Homo sapiens: one gene and its partner. The protein of the gene in region 1 purifies or fractionates together with the protein of each later gene. This does not show direct contact. Each region holds a gene or a part of one and is shown on either strand. Other genes may lie near its edges. The genes, in order: CDK14 and CCNT1.

The links.
Region 2: the proteins of CDK14 (region 1) and CCNT1 purify together in Homo sapiens (affinity purification with mass spectrometry, with the first as the bait; one large-scale study listed by BioGRID). This does not show direct contact.

Annotation. Positions count from the first base shown.
Region 1 is NC_000007.14:91,113,521-91,117,346, forward strand, and holds part of CDK14 (cyclin-dependent kinase 14), read left to right. Parts: intron 1-3,826. UniProt on the Homo sapiens protein: Serine/threonine-protein kinase involved in the control of the eukaryotic cell cycle, whose activity is controlled by an associated cyclin.
Region 2 is NC_000012.12:48,703,100-48,706,925, reverse strand, and holds part of CCNT1 (cyclin-T1), read left to right. Parts: intron 1-1,029; coding exon 1,030-1,158; intron 1,159-3,826. UniProt on the Homo sapiens protein: Regulatory subunit of the cyclin-dependent kinase pair (CDK9/cyclin-T1) complex, also called positive transcription elongation factor B (P-TEFb), which facilitates the transition from abortive to productive elongation by phosphorylating the CTD (C-terminal domain) of the large subunit of RNA polymerase II (RNA Pol II).

The DNA of each region.
Region 1 (3,826 bases):
ATTTTTGTTCAATGGTGATATGTTCTTTCCAAAGAACAATTAGAGATATTTCTTCTATACTCTTTTCTGATTGCCTTAAAAATGAACATACTGCATATATACATTAATATTTATAATGTGTTTATTAATCCTTGGTATACATCACTTACAGTAGACATATGATTATTTCTTCATTATCTTGGATTTTAGACTTCTTTCATCCATCATAATATTGGATTCTCCTTGATGGCAATAACCCTTTATTTTGGAACTAAGTTCTAAGTGCAACTCCTCTTGGGTATTTCTATCCTAAATCTTTTTTTGATATCCCACATTTATTTCTCATTACTTTTTTTTAACCCTAAAGTCACTATAGATATATTAATCTACTACTCCCCTTAATGCTTAGCAAATCCTCCTTAACATTTCACGTATTTCCAGCCCATGTTTACTCAACACTCTGCCCTTTCTAAAGTCTACTCACTGACTATTACAACAGCTATCCTCAATTTTTTTTAAATTAAAAATTAAATCCCTATGGGAAAATAATTTTCCTATACTGAAAACAAAAATGCTGTAAATAGGCTCACTAGTTTACGGCTCATCACACTCAAACATATGGTTTGTTTTCCCATTTAGTGTAACTTGTAACTTGGTATCACTCCTCCTTGGTGACATCTCAATCCCATCTGACTTGAAGATTGAGTTTAAGCCAGGATTTTGATGGTCTATGAATTCTGAATTCTGTAGTAGTACTTTTCTGTTAATATGGACTTATTACCCACTTGCCACTTAGTTTATCAGCCAGTGGTTAAATCCAGTTTCTATCAGTGAGTAAATGCCTACACATTATCACTCGGCAGCAGACTGCCAAGGGAGACAGCCTTGTCCCCGTCATTAACAAGCACAAAGTATGCAGAACACCAGAGGGGAATTAAAACCACAAAAAATACCTCAGGGTGGTATTTTTAATATGAGAATTTAATTTGTAATTTTACAGATTAAGAATTTTGGCTGCATTAATCCCTTTATCAGCTCACAGCAGGCTATTTGCAGAAGCATAACCGTAAGGCGATATTCATTGGCAGAAACACGTCTTTGCATAACGTTAAACATCAGGAGCAGTGAAACCTTTTGAAGGGGGGAGAATAAAGATGAAAAATCATTATATTTTTAAACCAAGATTCTACTAAATGCCTCCGGTAACAATTTTGAGTTACAGAAATGCTATTTCTGTGTCTAGAAGATAATCATTATGAGGCATAAATCCAGTTGCAAGAAAGGACAATCCCAGTATTAAATACTATAGTCATTTCCATTTAGAACAACGTGGCTGTACTTGTAAACATGTTTACAAAACAAAGAATTCCCAGACTTTGGAGACTTAGGGAATTGGTTTCTTTAAGTGAAATGACTGGTTTGGGTGACTTATTATCTAGGTTAGTATTCTGCAGAGTATATTTAGAAGTTTTTTAAATTTTTATAATTAAATTTCATATTAGCATAGAGTCTTGTAAAAGTTCACCATCTGGCAAAGGCAGCAGTGGCAGTGGCAGCAGTAGCAGCAGCACCTGTAATACCCTTACGTATTTCTTTTTTAAGGAGATTTGGAAGGAGATCCACCTGGAAAGAAGTGTTACAGAACCAGTAAATGGATTGTCTTAGCAACCAAGCTGTAGTTTAGGAACCTCGCTGTCTTAGTTTGGTCACACTGCAATAACAAAATACCTTAGACTGGGTGGCTTAAACAGCAGACATTTATTTCTCTTGGGGATGGGAGGTCCAAGATAAAGGTGCCAGCAGATTCGGTTCCTGGTAAGGTCTTTCTTCTCAGTTTGTGAAGGGCACCTTGCTGTGTCTTCACAGGGTGGAGAGAGCAATCTCTTCCTCTTCTCACAAAGCCATTAATCTCATCATGAGGGCCCCTCCCTTATGAGTTCATCTAACCCTAATTACCCTCCTAAGGCCCCATCTCCAAATGCCATCACATTAGGGGTTAGGGCTTCAACAGATGAATTTGAGGACGGACACAATTCAATCCATAGCACTCTCATTCTTAAAGATGGCTCATAGCACTTTCTAAAGAATTTCCACAAGAGGAAAACACTTATGCAAGCAGGAAGCAAAGTCAGGTTAAAAGGAGAAGATGGGAACAAAAATAAGTTACAAGTAGATTTGAGCCTTCTTGGCCTAGTGTAATATGTCAGACCCCATGAGAAGGGCATCAAGTGTGGTTGGAGCCTGAGTAACACAGAGCCCTGCAGTCATTTCATAGATTCGTACAAAAGTGAAATTACGGGCTTATGTCAGACTCTGGCTTTGGAAGAATACATAGTAATGTAATATCTTTCTTTAGTATACTATTCCTTAAAACCTCATCAGGTTACATAGTACCAAAATTTAGAGGTAATGTATTAGTGTGGCACTGAAGCAGGAATTATAAAAGCAGAAAGCAAGAATAATGGTACAGTTATCTGGGGATCTGGCTGTTAAAGCTGGCTAATTCTGGTGGCACCCTGTCATTCTCCCTCTGTCCTGAAACCCCAACAGCTTTGTCCCACTTCTTCTCAAAGATTTAATTGCAGGGAAGTAAATGGAGGGCTGATTTAGAAGAAATTCATTACTTTTCCCAAATACACCACAGGGCATTCTCCTGCATATACTATCAAGTTACATAAATAATTGAAGCTGAACTACCCTTGTCAAAGTAAATGAACAAAATACACTTCATAGCACAGAGTCCTTGATTTTATTACACTCATTTGCTAATTCACAAAACTCAAATTCAGTGAAAGAAGGCCAACAAATCGGTACAGTGTGAAGAGCACTGAACTGGGAATCAGACCACCTGGATTGCAGCTTCAGCTCCACTGTTAACTAGCCAGGGAACTTTGGACAAGTGCCTTGGTCTCTCTGAGCTTCCCATTTCTCACTTAAGGAGCAAGTGAGGTGGGCACAGTAGTCTCCAGGGACCTTTCTAGCTCTAGAGTTTGTCGATTTTCCCACATATTCCTGTATATGTTCTGTATATCATCCTAGAACAGCATAATGCTCTTAATGTAGCTCTATGCTGTCTTTTTAAAAATAAAACAGGTGCACCCATTTCAGATTTAAGATTTGCTACCTTCAGTTCGTAGACTTTCATGCTGTTTTGAATCCTTTACAACCAGGCTTTTGTGTCCACAACGCCTGGCTTTCGAAGTCTCTATCCATTGGTCTTTTCCCAGCCTATCGAAGATTCAACACAATTGACAACCATCTCCTCCTACTAATACTTCTTTCGCTTGGTTTCCAGGACAGTATTCTCTCATTGCTTTCCTTTAGTTTAGAAAACTAAAGTCTCCTGTTCACACTCCTTTGCTGATTTCTCCTCATCTGCCAGACCTTTCACATTAGAGTGTCCTGGGGCTGAATCCTCAGATCTGTCTATCTGCATGGACTCCCTGGAGCCTAGATGATCTCATCCCATCTCATGATTTAAATATCATCTATACACTGGCAGTTTTCAAATATCCATCTCCAGTCCTGTCTTCCCTGACTTGACTTGCATATCCAACTGACACTCAACATTTCCATTTGACCATCTAGTAGGCCTCTCACACTTAATCTTACCAAAACTGAACTCATCTTTCCCCTCAAACTTGCGCCTTCTCTAGTCTTACCGTTGTCAATAAATAGCAGCATCATTCTTCCAGTTGATGGAAGGTATCCCTAATCATCTTTTTTTGGTTCTACTCCACATTCAGTTCTTCCACAGACCGTATTGTTGCTACCTTCACAGTATATCCAGGATCACGCACGCCACTCCTCACTTCACTGCTATCACGCTGCCCTCAGTCACTCACCA
Region 2 (3,826 bases), on another chromosome or scaffold:
GCCTAAAAAAATTTTGTTTTAAATTATTTTTGTCTCCTATGGTCTTGTCTGAAATCAATACTATGAGTTGAATTTGTGGAGAAAAACTTACTCTAGAAAAGTATAGCATAGGTGACATCAGGGTTACAAATAAGTATTAGAATATCAGTTCTAGTCAGTAAAATGAAATATATATTTAAATTCTGTAAAATTATTTATGTATTTCTTTGACTCCTGGTGAAATACAGCTCTTAGCATTACTATCTTTGAGTCACTGAAATGTTCTTAATATTCAAGAAAAGTTCTATTTCCTGAAGTTTCCAAGATCACCAGGCTACATTTATGTCATATTGCTTTAATCTTTTATAAAGTTTGTTATCTACTTTTATATTGACTTCAATTTTTCCCTCTTAATGCTTTCTATAAATAATGTCTTGCATATAATGCCATGCTTTGTATTTTTGAAAGGTTCGATATGTATAAGTAATTGAGATATAATTCACGTACAATGAAATTCGTTTGTTTAAATTATATAGTTCACTGGTTTTTAGTATATGCGCAAAATTGTGCAACCATCAGCACAGTCTAATTGCAGAACATTTACATCACCCCAGAAAACTCCTCACCTATTAGCAGTTATTCCTATACTCCTCTCCCCGCAGCTCCTGGCAACCACTAAACTTTTTCTCTATATGGATTTGCGTATTCTGGACATTTCAGTTTACTCCTTAAAAAATGTATTGAGTGATTTGATACAAACTTAATAAAGAATCTCACTTTAAATAGAAAACTGTCTGCTTACATCTAGTAGCTTCTCCCATAGACAGCTTTTAATGACAGTTTGTCAAAGAATTGGTATTTGGAAGTGGAGATGGATTAATGGGTAGGAGAGGGGAAGATGGTAGAAGCGGGGGGGCGGGAAAGGGTAAAGAGGTGACAAAGTTGAGGCAAGCAAATAACTTGATTTGAGACTTAGCTCCTCTTTAGATCTACCTTACTCTATGAATGAATAAATTGATAATAAATATGATTTATTTTCTCTCCATTCAGTCTGTGGCTCCAGCAGCCTTGTTTCTAGCAGCTAAAGTGGAGGAGCAGCCCAAAAAATTGGAACATGTCATCAAGGTAGCACATACTTGTCTCCATCCTCAGGAATCCCTTCCTGATACTAGAAGTGAGGTAGGAGATTAATTACACATCTGTTTTTCTTAATTTTTTTCCTTTCTTTTTTTTTCCCTACTCCCAAGCATGCCTGGATCTTTATGTATTTCAATGCAACTTAATTTTATAACTTCGATTTATTGAAGTTTAGATTGGTGTTGTTAAAAGAATATTTTAGTGTTTGTGTTTTTCTTAACAGTAAGAAAATCAGGCCAGGTATGGTGGCTCACCATACCTGTAATCCTAGCACTTTGGGAGGGTAAGGTGGGAGAATCACTTTAGGCCAGAAGTTTAAGACCAACCTGGACAACATAGCAAGACCCTGTCTCTATATTTAAAAAAAAGAAAAAAAAAAGCCAGATGTGGTGGCTCATGCCTGTAATCCCAGCACTTTGGGAGGCTGAGGCAGGAGAATTGCTTGAGTCCAGTTCGAGACAAGCTCTGGCAACAAAGTGAGACCCCATTTCTACAAAAAAAGAAAAACAACAACAACAACAACAACAAAAAACAACTGGGCATGCTGGCTCACATCTTTAGTCCCAGCTACTTGGGAGACTGAGGTGGGAGGGTTGCTTGAGCATGGGATGTTGAGGCTGCAGTGAGCCATGATCACACCACTGCAGGCAACAGTGCCAGGACTCTGTCTGAAAAACAAAACACATAAATTTTATGGCGAAAGTTTTGTATTTGTTGCAGTAAAATTTGAAAATACAGAAAAATTCAAGAATAAAATATCTCTCAGATATATTCTAGACCAATGGTCCCAGACCTTTTTTGGCACCTGGGACTGGTTTCATGGGAGACAGTTTTTACATGGACAGGGGGTGGGGTTGGAGATGGTTTTGGGATGATTCAAGCACATTACATTTATTGTTCACTTTATTTCTATTATTGTTACATTGTTATACATAATGAAATAATTACGTAACTCACCATAACGTAGAATCAGTGGGAGCCCTGAGCATCTCTTTTTTTTTGAGACGGAATCTTGCTCTTGTCGCCAGGCTGGAGTGCAGTGGCGCAATCTCGGCTCACTGCAACCTCCACCTGCCGGTTTCAAGCGATTCTCCTGCCTCAGCCTCCTAAGTAGCTGGGACTACAGGTGTGCACCACCACACACAGCTAATTTTTGTATTTTTAGCAGAGACAGGGTTTCACCATGTTAGCCAGAATGGTCTCGATCTCTTGACCTTGTGATCTGCCCGCCTTGGCCTCCCACAGTGGTGGGATTACAGGCATGAGCCACTGTGCCCGGCCACCTTGAGGTGCTTTTCCTGCAACTAGATGGTCCCATCTGGGGGTGATGGGAGACAGTGACAGATCATCAGGCATTAGATTCTCATAAAGAGCAGCAAATTAGATCCCTTGCATGGGCAGTTCACCACAGGGTTCAAGTGCTCCTATAAGAATCTAATGCCACTGCTGATCAGACAAGAGGCAGTGCTCAGGTGGCAATATGTATGGTGGGGAGAGGCTATAAATACAGATGAAGCTTCACTCACTCGTACCTGCTGCTCAACTCCTGCTGTGTGGCCTAGTTCATAACAGGCCATGGACCCCCTGTTATATAGACAACTGAAGCACAGGTATACTAATGAACCACTGTTATTTGTGGCTTCTTTTCTATAGATAGCTATGTGTGCATGTATTTTGTCTCTGGTTTGTTTTCATTTGCTTACTATATCCCAAATATTTTCCCATCTGATGGATTCTCTACTTTTTAAAAATGTCTGGCTAGTATTTAATGATATATATGTGAATGTATGTATTTTTAACAATTCTCCATGAAGAAGTCTAGATAATTTCTAGCTTTTAAAATCACTATAAATGTTATGAAAAATATTCTTTTTTTTTTTTTTGGAGACAGGGTCTCATTCTGTTGCCCTGGCTGGAGTCCAGTAGTGTGATCATGGCTCACCGCGGCCTTGACCTTCCGGGCTCAGTGATCCCCCTGACCTCAGCATCCCGAGTAGCTGGGACTATAGGTGTGCGCCACCATGCCCAGCTAGTTTTTGTAGAGATGGGGTTTCACCATGTTGCCCAGGCTGCTCTCGACCTCCTGAGCTCAAGTAATTCGCCCACCTTGGCCTCCCAAGTGCTGGGATTACAGGCGTGAGCCACTGCACCTGGCTGAAAAATATTATTATACATTTTTATTATGGATCCTTAAATGAGTAGTTTCACTATTTTTTTTTTTTTTAACTTTTTTTTCGAGTTGGAGTTTTGCTCTTGTTGCCCAGGATTGAGTGCAATGGTGCAATCTCAGCCAACCGCAACCTCCCCCTCCTGGGTTCAAGCGATTTGCCTGCCTCAGCCTCCCGAGTAGCTGGGATTACAGGCATGTGCCACTACACCCGGCTAATTTTGTATTTTTAGTTGAAACGGGGTTTCTCCATGTTGGTCAGGCTGGTCTCGAACTCCTGACCTGAGGTTATCCACCTGCCTCAGCCTCCCAAAGTGCTGGGATTATAGGCGTGAGCCACCATGTCCAGCCAGCTTTGTTTTTTTTGAGACAGAATCTCGTTTTGTTGCCCAGGATAGAGTGCAGTGGCAAGATTGTAGCCAGGATGGTCTCGATCTCTTGACCTTGTGATCCGCCCGCCTTGGCCTCCCAAAGTGCTGGGATTACAGGTGTGAGCCACTGCACCCGGCCACCCTGAGCTTCTTTTCCTGCAACTAGATGGTC